Homo sapiens: one gene and its partners. The protein of the gene in region 2 purifies or fractionates together with the protein of the main gene of each other region. This does not show direct contact. Each region holds a gene or a part of one and is shown on either strand. Other genes may lie near its edges.

The links. Proteins that work in one complex are often made in the same cells at the same time.
Region 1: the proteins of SPINK5 (region 2) and OLFM4 purify together in Homo sapiens (co-immunoprecipitation; one large-scale study listed by IntAct). This does not show direct contact.
Region 3: the proteins of SPINK5 (region 2) and SYT11 purify together in Homo sapiens (co-immunoprecipitation; one large-scale study listed by IntAct). This does not show direct contact.

The regions. Positions count from the first base shown.
Region 1 is NC_000013.11:53,042,313-53,045,848, reverse strand, and holds part of OLFM4 (olfactomedin-4 precursor), read right to left. Parts: intron 2,745-3,536; coding exon 2,585-2,744; intron 1-2,584. UniProt on the Homo sapiens protein: May promote proliferation of pancreatic cancer cells by favoring the transition from the S to G2/M phase. In myeloid leukemic cell lines, inhibits cell growth and induces cell differentiation and apoptosis.
Region 2 is NC_000005.10:148,098,260-148,101,979, reverse strand, and holds part of SPINK5 (serine protease inhibitor Kazal-type 5 isoform b preproprotein), read right to left. Parts: intron 2,747-3,720; coding exon 2,665-2,746; intron 1,527-2,664; coding exon 1,399-1,526; intron 626-1,398; coding exon 544-625; intron 200-543; coding exon 72-199; intron 1-71. UniProt on the Homo sapiens protein: Serine protease inhibitor, probably important for the anti-inflammatory and/or antimicrobial protection of mucous epithelia.
Region 3 is NC_000001.11:155,862,567-155,866,102, reverse strand, and holds part of SYT11 (synaptotagmin-11), read right to left. Parts: intron 1-3,536. UniProt on the Homo sapiens protein: Synaptotagmin family member involved in vesicular and membrane trafficking which does not bind Ca(2+). Inhibits clathrin-mediated and bulk endocytosis, functions to ensure precision in vesicle retrieval.

The DNA.
Region 1 (3,536 bases), on a different chromosome or scaffold from region 2:
AGAAGGCCAATTATTTTAGATTAGAAAGTTCTATGAAATGAGGCAGAAAAAGGACGTTGTTTGTAGCAAAAACCAAATAGGAAGCATATTTTATTGAACCTGGGATACATTCACTTGTTCTAAGTTCAAGCTGACCACTGGGTCAGCAAACTGTAGCTATAAGGGAGGGGGCCCAGAGAGCGCAGAGTTACTTTAGAGCTGAGACTTGCATATAGTCTTTTTTATTCTGTGCAACTCTGCAGTGAAAAAAGCAGACAGGCCAGATTTTAAAGTCCCATAATAGAGAATAACTTTAATTAAAGTCTCCACAGGCTCACAAGTTTGTGGTGCTTGGGGATTTTCCAATTCTGCATTATCAACCAATCCAAACAGAAAGAGAGCAAGTGAAAGAAATTGATTTAAAAACATGACCAAAAGTCAGTTTAATATAAACATCATAAATATAATATGAACAAAGCTGGAAGAGAGCCAAGTGGCTTGGCAGGGATTCAGGTACAGCCAAGGTTGTGGGAAAGTGAGTAAAAATCTGGGTCCAATTTGCTTAAACAACACAGCTGGGCTAGGATGGATCACAGAAGTCTAAGTGTGAGGGCCTAGGGGAAAGTTCTGGGAAAAAAAAAATCCAACAAAAACAACCCAACAGGCTCACTTGTTTTCTTCCCTGGATACTAAGCAATGCATTTTCTCCCCACCGTTGTCCTTGGATTACTGCTGCCTGACACCTTCGGTCCTGAACTGACCAGGGAGCAAAGACCCTTGCCTTGCAGCTTCTGCTCTGTCATTAACTACTTGTGTGGCCTCAGGAAAAGCAGCGTTCTTACCATCCACGTCTTCTCCTCTGAGACAAGACGAGGCTAAGTTAGATGGCCCTGAATATTCCTTCATCTAAAATGTCCTCATTCTAAGGGATGCATAGAAAATTGTGCCAGAAAAATCTATTCCATGAGGAGGATTTGCAAGGGGTGTTGGGGAGCTCGTTCAGGGATTATCAGGAGTTGTCATTGCTTCAGCCTCTGCCTCAGTGAGTCCTCTGTGGTCCACCAGAAACAGCTCTCATTTGCTACATTTTTGCACCACTAATCCCAGACTAAATTTAGCCTTAGTTTATTACAGAGGACAGACCATGTTGTCTGCCCTAAACCTCCTATGCAGGATGCGAAATTTGAACAGTTGTTCAAATTTATGTCACCTCCTTTCTGGAGAAGTTGAAAGGCCATTTCATTCTGGGGCAGGATTCTAACCATTAGATGACACCTGTCATAGTAGGACACACTCCTATTTGCAGAGGGAGGAAAAAAATCCACCTGAAGAAGACCAAGAGGCTTATATCTATGGCTATACCTATTTAATAATTGAAGCCTTAAAAAATCAGTTACAATGACAATAATCCAGAAACACAGTCTAAAAGAAAGCAGGTGTGAGGATTGGAATTCATAAAAATAAAAGGATTGCATGATTTGATGAAAAGATACAGTCCCCACTCAGGCTAAGATGCTCAGGACCTGCAGAGAGAAGGTCCCTGTGTCATTGATATCTCTAAAGGATGGGGCTGAACACTGTGGCTGAGAGGCTTTAGTTTACCTGAAGGAATGCATTGCAGGGCACAGTAATCTGGCACTGCTTTTGTTTTGCTGCAAGGCTTTCGCTTCAATTATCAACATTATTAACAATATCCATTGCCAGCGTGTGAGTGCCGATCATAAGGTTCCGAGCTTCCCAAGCACTGACTCATTAATCCCCACAGCCACCCTGCAAGGCAGGCACTATTATTCTCCCATTTTACAAATGAGGATATTAAGGATCCTTTTTGCTGCAGCCACCTAGCTGAGAAGCTCAGGTCTTTGGAATTCTAAAGCTATGTTCTTGTACCCTACACTCCACTGCCTCTGTTCATGGGTATATTTGCAGAACACCCACCTCTGTGCTGTACTTAACCCCAATGAGAATTCATTAAAGACGAACATGCCACCCCTACTCCAAGAACTCACAATCCATGAGGAATGGCAAGACACACCCACAAGCACATGATATGTGGGGTCATTCCTTTAATCCTCACTGAATCTCAGGACACACAATATAGCAGGTGCTCAGCATGCATTTATAGGAAGAAAAAAGAAAAAATTAAAGAGAAACAGAAGGAGAGAGAGAAGATGGCAGCATCAAAGGCATAAACCCAGCTCATCAGATAAGTGAGCCAATCAGTCCTTAACTCCACAGGAAAGTGGATGCCACACACAGATTCCAGAGGCTTTCCCCTGAGGCCCCTGATAGGGCCTCCATCACCATAGAGATTTTTGTTCCCTGTTAGAAAATGCAAAGAGAATACGTGTAACTCGTGGATTTTGCTTTAAATCAACTCATTGTTTGTGCTCTTCCTCTTTGAAACCCAGAATATGATAGCATGTAGAATACTTGGGAGGAAGGGAATTTTAAAACATGGAAGAGAAAACTGAGAACTGAAAAAAAAAAAAAAAAAACAACCCACCTTCTTCTTTCACCATTGCAATCCCCAATCCCTTCCCCACCCCACTCACAGCTCCTTATGGGGTCTGGCACAAGTGGTTAAAAAAACTGGCATGCTTACCTGGAGTGGGAGGAGGGTGGACGACAGGGGTGTTTTGATCTTTAGAGGCCTCACACTCTTTCAGCTTGGTCTTCAGAGCCACGATTTCTCGGCGAATGGCAAGGACATTGTTTTTGTCTAGTGTCTCAAGCTTCTCTACCAAGAGAGTCATATTTCTTATCTAAGGAAATAAAAATTCAGAGTGACTTTATATTATGGTGCAATTTCTTTCATAAACATTCCAGGGCTGAATTTGTCATTTAGTGAAACATTGCCAGAGAATACACCAGAGATTCTTCTGAATGGTTTCATTTGGAAGAATACATTTTATGGTTTAGCATGAATGCCTGTCAGATCTCAGGCAGATGTGTGTGACAAGAAGAAAATGGCAAAGATTTTAATAGCTTTAATAATAGAGCCCAAGCTCATCCTCAGCATCCACAAATGTCCATTAAAGTTCATTTCTAATAACCTTCCCCTATAAACTTGTGTTTACTCATGTTGTATTATAATTAAGATTCTAATGAATGGTGAGGGCCAGAGAAAGCTTAAATTCTAAAATACGTAACTAGAATTCTCAATTATAGCCCATGTCATGACTGTGCTAGTAAATTTTTGTTGATATAAATTACCCAACCATAACGTTAATGTGATGGTCTTTATCCACAGATCTTAAAAGGCTTTACAGAAATATACAAGAAATTTCTTAAAGGGGGTTTCCAGTTTGCAGAGAAGGATTCCAGGTTATTCAAAAGGAGAAACAAACCTAGCAATTTTACCACAATCAGGTATATTGTGGATTTCTAGTTCCATGAGGATAAATCTAGAGCAGAGAAGACACCTCATATAGCTTGGCCATGAACCGTTGTTCAACTTTATGCCAGCTCCTTTTCAGAGAAGTTGAAAGGGCATTTTATTCTGGGGCAGGATTCTGACCATTAGACAACATCTGCTCCTAAGTCAGCACATTCCC
Region 2 (3,720 bases):
GGTTTGAAAACTTCCCATGGAAATTCCCACTGCTCAATCCTCAGACGCTATGGGGCTACTGCTCTACTCACAAGAAGGCCTCACACATGGAGCAGGTGTTGCCATGCATTTTTCCATCTGGGCCCTGGATGGGGTCATTCTCTCTGGTGCAAAAAAGCCGTCCGTTTTTCCTGGATTTGCGGTATTCACTACACAACTCCTGTGAAATTGAGGCAGGAAGTTGAAAGTGTTGAACATAGGCTGAATCAGATTGCAAAAATAGCTAAAGCTTGTACTTTTTTTCTTAAACGAGGATTAGCAATTGGCTTATTTTAGAATGATTAACTTTGAAGGCATGGATTTTTTAAGTGATAAAAACAATGAACCCAACAACCAAGAAATAGTCACATATGCACATGTATAACTGCACACATGAAAACACATATGAAAACACAAACTGTACAATTGTTTCATACAGTTTTAAGGAATGCACGTGTTCCCTGAACATGATCTGTGGATCCTCAGGGCCATATCCCTCTGAGTTGCTGGAGGATATAAACTCACCTCAAAGGAAGCTGTACTCTTAGATTGTCTTTTGTTTCTTGATTTACCTTCCTTCTTTTTCTTTTCTTCTTCTTCTGCTTGGCTAAAAAAGGATGGTTAAGAAGAGATAAGTAAAAATCATAGAATCGCCACATTAGAAGTGATCTCAAATATAATTTAATTTTACACTTAACAACGATTAAATTCTTTGAATGTGATGTGCCTAACCCTGTGCTTACACTGTGAAATCCTCACAATTGCATTACAAAACTATTATTATAACCCCAACATACAAATAAACTGACAGACGGAATGCATAACTCACCTGAAGATATAGAAATAATAAGTACAGACTTGGGATTTAAACCCTAGTCCAGAGGTGGTTTTCTAAATTTCCAATGCTCATTACTGTATCTCTAATGACTCCCAAGCCTTTGCTTTAATCTGCCTGTAAAGTCTGTACTGATATCATCCTTGGAATTCCATGGTAAATCATCCATCTTTGAAATCCGCAAACTGTTAGGAAGTTCTTCCTGGCATCCACTTGGAACCTGTCTTCCAGACCTTTCATTCTTTGGCCCACTGGCCTCACTTTTATTCACGGAGATAAGCTAGAACTTGTCCTGTTTCCACACTTAAAAGACAAAACTACTTGAATATTTCAAGATTATGACTTTCTCCTTGCTTAAGTGTGAAGTCTTGACAATCTTCAAAGGACATGGATTTTCAAATACATGTCTCCAATCAGACAGTTTCTCTAAATATGCCTTAATTCTTTCATTTTTATGTTGAAGTGGCCCTCCCATAATTGAACATGGAAATGAAATAGAAAGAACAAAATCATTCCTCCATGTTCCCAGCTGCAGGGCTACTCACAAGAAGACCTCACACATGGAGCAGGTGTTGCCATGCACTTTCCCATCTGGGCCCTGGATAGGATCGTTCTCTCTGGTGCAAGCAAGTTTTCCGTTCCTCACAAGCTTTCGATATTCACTGCAAAGCTCCTGCCGAGATAGAAGAAGTAAGTTGGCCATATATTTCATTTCTACTTAAAGCAGAAGGTTCAAACATCTACATTGGCAGAAACTAATGTTACATCTCTTTGAGCTGAGGATTTTAATTGTGTTTTTCTCAAATGTAAAATTCAATTTGACAACAAGAAAAACATCATATGCCAAGAGATAGGAAAAAATAAAACATAGCACAATGTCCCCATATAATACAAGCAATATATAAGCAAATTCCACTATAATCTAAACAGAATAAAATAGGTACGAACATACAGGGTACAATAAAATCTGAGAACTCAAAGGAAACCAGGGAAGGTGTCAGGGAGCAAGAACAATTTAGGTGAGACTGTGGAAGTGTAAATAGGATTTGACTGGGCAAAAAAAAGTGAATTGGGAAATACGCACACAGGTTTATGAAAATAAAACTAGCTGAAAAACACAGGTAGGAAAAGACATGGCACATAGCAGAGCATGATTTTCTGAATGGAGATAAGGATACAAATAAGAGGAGAGATAACAGGATTAAAGCATATCCTGTATATGATGATGAGCTGCTTGTGGGTTTTAAGAGCAATATTATGATCTTATTTACATTTTGAAACATTACTCCAACTATGTTAGGGAGACTGGTTGGGCAAGGGAAAGGATAAAATCCAGAGTGAAAATTAGGAGACTTTTATCATCAAAACCATTGGTGATGATAACTGAGCTAAGGCTTTGGAAACTAATATTGTAATATTTCAGGGATAAAAATCATGCGTTGGTGGGGGAATCAAGGTATTTTTTATCTCAAATTAGATGTGAAATATCAGAAACTCATATGTAGAAAGCATACATGTAGAATTTCTCTGGAAAGTAGTTAGCAAAAGCTAACAGTCTATAAGTGATAAAACTAGAAGTAGAACTCAGTTTTTCAGCTTTTAAACAATTTTTTTTTTTTTTTTTTGCAGAGTTAGTTTTTAATCAGCAAGAATGGATCAATCTTCCCATATAATTCATCTCAATACCATCCCCAGATTGAAGAGTTAAGATATTCTGGGGATTTCTGCAGGGCAAAATCTCACCCTTTAGGCTCTTAAAATTTGTTCAAATTATAGCACCAAATAGGATTTATTGGATGGATTCCACTCACTGCATATGAGGTTGCTTTTCCAGATTCTCTTTTGTTTCTAGCTCGTGCTTCAGCCTTTTTCTTTTCTTCATTTTCTGCTTGGCTGAATAAGAGGGAAAAAGAAGCAGATCCATTAGGAACAAACACATGCCATGATTTCTCCACATCCTTGCACTGTTAACTGTTCTCCCTCCTTAGAGTGGAACAATTTTGTCCCTTTATCACTGCATATCAATGAGAAGCAACAAAATATCCTCCAGGATAGTATGGTGCTATGATTTCTTCATAATGTCTGTTTAATGTTGAAAGAAAGACGGCAATAGTGGATCTGGGATACTTGCTTTCTGTAAATTAGTTTTCTTGCCCATAGTAAGAAAAGGAGCATGATCAATGTTCATAACAGAGGCACCAAAACTAAAATCATGGTGGCATAACCTGAAGGCTGAAAGTGGCCTTAACAAAGCACATCTACTCATCCCCTTGTTAATCAGAGAAGATGAGAGGTAGAGGGGGTCTTTGCTACATCTCAGGATATGACTACAACCAAGGTCTCCTCCCTCAAGACCATGGTCTATCTATCACACCATGTGTACCCTAGCTTTGCTTTAAACTTAAATATTTTGCTTACTCATAGCTGTTTCATCTAAAGGACAAGATGTGAAAAAAAAAACCACAATAATTTCCATATACTGATAAAACAAATAAGCCTAAATTTGCTTTGTACAATGGAATTGCACAGTATGTACAGTTAACTGATGATATTTCAACCATATGTAGTTGTCAATCAAAACAAAGAAAGCCATAGATTCTAAATATAAGTTAAATACTTAATTTGAGCTCAGCCAAATAAAGAGCTATCGTAAATCTTGAAAGAAAACTGTCCATTCTAACTTATTGAGAAATATTGCATTACATAAAATAATACCCATTGTAATTTTATAGGAGTTTAGTGTTGTTTCATGGGAATTTTGACTTTATTCCATTTCTACATTAAGCATCACCTTTGGACTCTTAACTCCCATGGAAGATGAGATACCTATAAATTGCTAAAACAGGCTAACGTGTGAAGTTTCAGGA
Region 3 (3,536 bases), on a different chromosome or scaffold from region 2:
AAAGAGAAATAGATTTTTTTTTTGTTTCCCTTACCCTAGTCTTATCTTTTCCCACAAAAATTGGACCCTCAAGTTTCTTCGCTCCCTCAAGTTCATTGAGGCTAAATTGGGTTTAGGCTTTAAAGGTCCAGATTAGGCCTATAGTTTTTTCCACTTTACTTTTTAGGGGACCACTTGGAAGGGAGGGAGAACTAAGGAAATAAATGTAGCCTGGGCAACATGGCAAAACCCCATCTCTACACAAAAAAATTACAAAAATTAGCAGGGCATGGTGGCACATGCCTGTAGTCCCAGCTATTTGGGAGGCCAAGGTAAGAGGATCACTTGAGCCCAGGAGGTGGAGGTTGCAGTGAGTTAAAATCGTGCCACTGCACTCCAGCCTGGGCAACAGAGCGAGGAAAAAAAAGAAAAGGAAATAGACATAATTCCAGCATTTCCCCGATTCTTTCTGGAATATTCTTTTTTTTTTTTTTTGAGACAGAGTTTTGCTCTTGTTGCCCAGGCTAAAGTACAATGGCACGATCACGGCTCACCGCAACCTCCGCCTCCAGAGTTCAAGCAATTCTCCTGCCTCAGCCTCCCGAGTAGCTGGGATTACAGGCATGCGCCACCATGTCCGGCTAATTTTTGTATTTTTAGTAGAGACAGGGTTTCTCCACGTTGGTCAGGCTGGTCTCGAACTCCTAACCGCAAGTGATCCAATTGCCTCGGCCTCCCAAAGTGCTGGGATTACAGGCATGAGCCACCGCGCCCGGCCTAAAGCATTCTTGTATCAGGCATCTGTGCAGCTCACTGCTTCACTTATCGTGAGCCCCGAACCTCACTGGATGAGGGAAATATTTCCTGTCTGCCCCAAGTAAGATAATGTCCCCATCACCCTTCCTTAATTTTCTTCATGGAGCTTATTATCCTGACATATATTTATTATCTTTCTTTGATCACTAGACAAGCTTAATAAAACAGCAACTTTGTCTGTTTTGTTCACTGCTATAGTTCCACGTCCTAGAACTATGCGGCATGTAGTAAGCGTTCAGTGAACAAAAGAGTCAGTGAATTCAAAACAGCCTCCACAGATTAGAAAGAGAGGATTGAGGCCTGGTGCGGTGGCTCATGCCTGTAATCCCAGCACTTTGGGAGGCTGAGGTAGGCAGATCACCTGAGGTCAGGAGTTCGAGACCAGCCTGGCCAACATGGTGAAACCCTGTCTCTACTAAAAATTCAAAACTTAGCCTGGCATGGTGGCAGGTGCCTGTAATCCCAGCTACCTGGGAGGCTGAGGCAGGAGAATAGCTTGAACCTCGGAGGCGGAGGCTGCAGTGAGCTGAGATTGTGCTACTGCACTCCATTCTGGGTGACAGAGTGAGACTCCATCTCAAAAAAAAAAAAAAAAAAAAGGATTGAGTCAAGATGATTACATATATCAGGGATAAATGTAAATTTCTATTTGGACTCAAAAACCTATTTATAGTCAATAACCTCACTTGATGAGTCAAAAATGACTTAGGAATTTAGGCAACCACAATCTTGGACTATAATTAGTATAATGCCTACTGTTTTCCCTTCTATTAGAGGTATCCTCTCCTATCCTCTCCAACCAATCCATGGCTTTTTCTTCCCTCCAAACCTAGATGAAGGGTTTATCTTCTCTAGAAAGCCTATGAGCATCATGAGCACAATACTATGAGCATAATGTCCAGATTACATGAGAGGCAGGTATAATTTCATCTGCACTGGTCATAATATACATGTAATATTGTGTATAGCAGTGACAATAATAAAATTGCTATTTTTTGTGTAAATTTATATGTCCCTGCCAGGCATTGTGGTAGAGCTTACTTTTTTTATTTCTTTTGAGACAGCGTCTCATTTTATTGCCTAGGCTGGAGTGCAGTGGCACAAGCTTGGCCCACTGCAACCTCCACCACCTGGGCTCAAGTGATCCTCCTGCCTCAGCCTCCTGAGTAGCTGGGACTACAGGCACATGCCATCACACCTGGCTAATTTTCGTATTTTTTGCAGAGATGGAATTTCACCATGTCACTCAGGCTGGAGTGCAGTGGCATGCATGATCGCAGCTTACTGAAGCTTTGACCTCCCCAGTTCAAATGATCTTCTTGCCTCAGCCTCCTGAGGAACTAGGACTACAGGCATGTGCCATCATGCCTGGTTAATTTTTTTTTTTTTTGAGATGGAGTCTTGCTTTGCCCAGACTTGAGTGCAATGGCGCGATCTCGGCTCACTGCAACCTCTGCCTCCCTGGTTCAAGTGATTCTCCTGCCTCAGCTTCCTGAGTAGCTGGGATTACCAGCACATGCCACTACACCTGGCCAGTTTTTGTATTTTTAGTAGAGACGGGGTTTCACCATATTGGCCACGCTGGTCTCGAACTCCTGACCTCAAGTGATCTGCCAGCCTTGGCCCCCCAAAGTGCTAGGATTACAGGCATGAGCCACCATGCCCAGCTAATTTTTAAATTTTTTTTAGAGATGAGTCTTCACTATATTGCCCAGGTGGTCTTGAACTCCTGGGCTCAAGCAATTCTGCTTTAGTCTCCACCAAATTGCTGGGATTACAGGTGCAAGCCACCATGCCTAACCAAGGAAGAGTTACATTTTATTTAAAATATATATTTATTGTTATTATTTTTTTAGAGACGTGGTCTCACTCTGTGGCCCAGGCTGGAGTGCAGTGGTGCAATCACAGCTCACTGCAGCCTTGAACTCCTGGGCTCAAGCAATCTTACTACCCTAGACTCCTGAATAGCTGGGACTACAGGACCATGCCACTATGCCTGGCTAATTAAAAAAAATTTTTTTTAGAGACAAGGTGCTATGTTGCCCAGTCTGGTTTTGAATTCCTGGCCTCAAGATCCTCTTGCCTCAGTCTCTTGAGTCGCTGGAATTATAAGCACGACCCACTGTACCCGGGTACATTTTAAAATAATATAGATAAGGAGCAAAACATTATTAACAAAATAAATCAAGGTGACCATGTCTATATCCATACCGAATAATAATAGTGTTTAGTCTCAAAGTATTAAATGAAATAGCTTTTAGGGAAAGTTTTCACAAAATGGAGACAGCCTTGGTAGTAAGCTACTTGAAGGCAGGCAGGAACAATATCCTATGGATCTTTGAATCCCTCAAGAGTCTCTTGCTTCTAATAGGAGTTCAGTAAATATTTGGTTGAACAACTAATTGGATTCAGTTGCCATTAAGAATGGGCACAGCCTAAGGAAGTGGCTCTCCATTCATCAATCAGGTGCTTTCCTGCAAATTGTTTGCTACTCATTAGTGAAACTGAACACTGTCTCTATGAGAAGAGGAACACAGCAAACTACCAAGACAGGCATATTTTTTGGAATGATCATAAAGAGAGATCTGAAGGCTTAGATTAGGAGACACCTGGGCAATTCTTTTGGCTCTATCATAGATTTATTCCCTGCAGCAGTGCGGTGGAGGAGCGGGGGGCAACCCACTGCTGCTTACATATTTACAATGCATCAACTTTTATTGTTAGAAAATGGAGATAGGGTA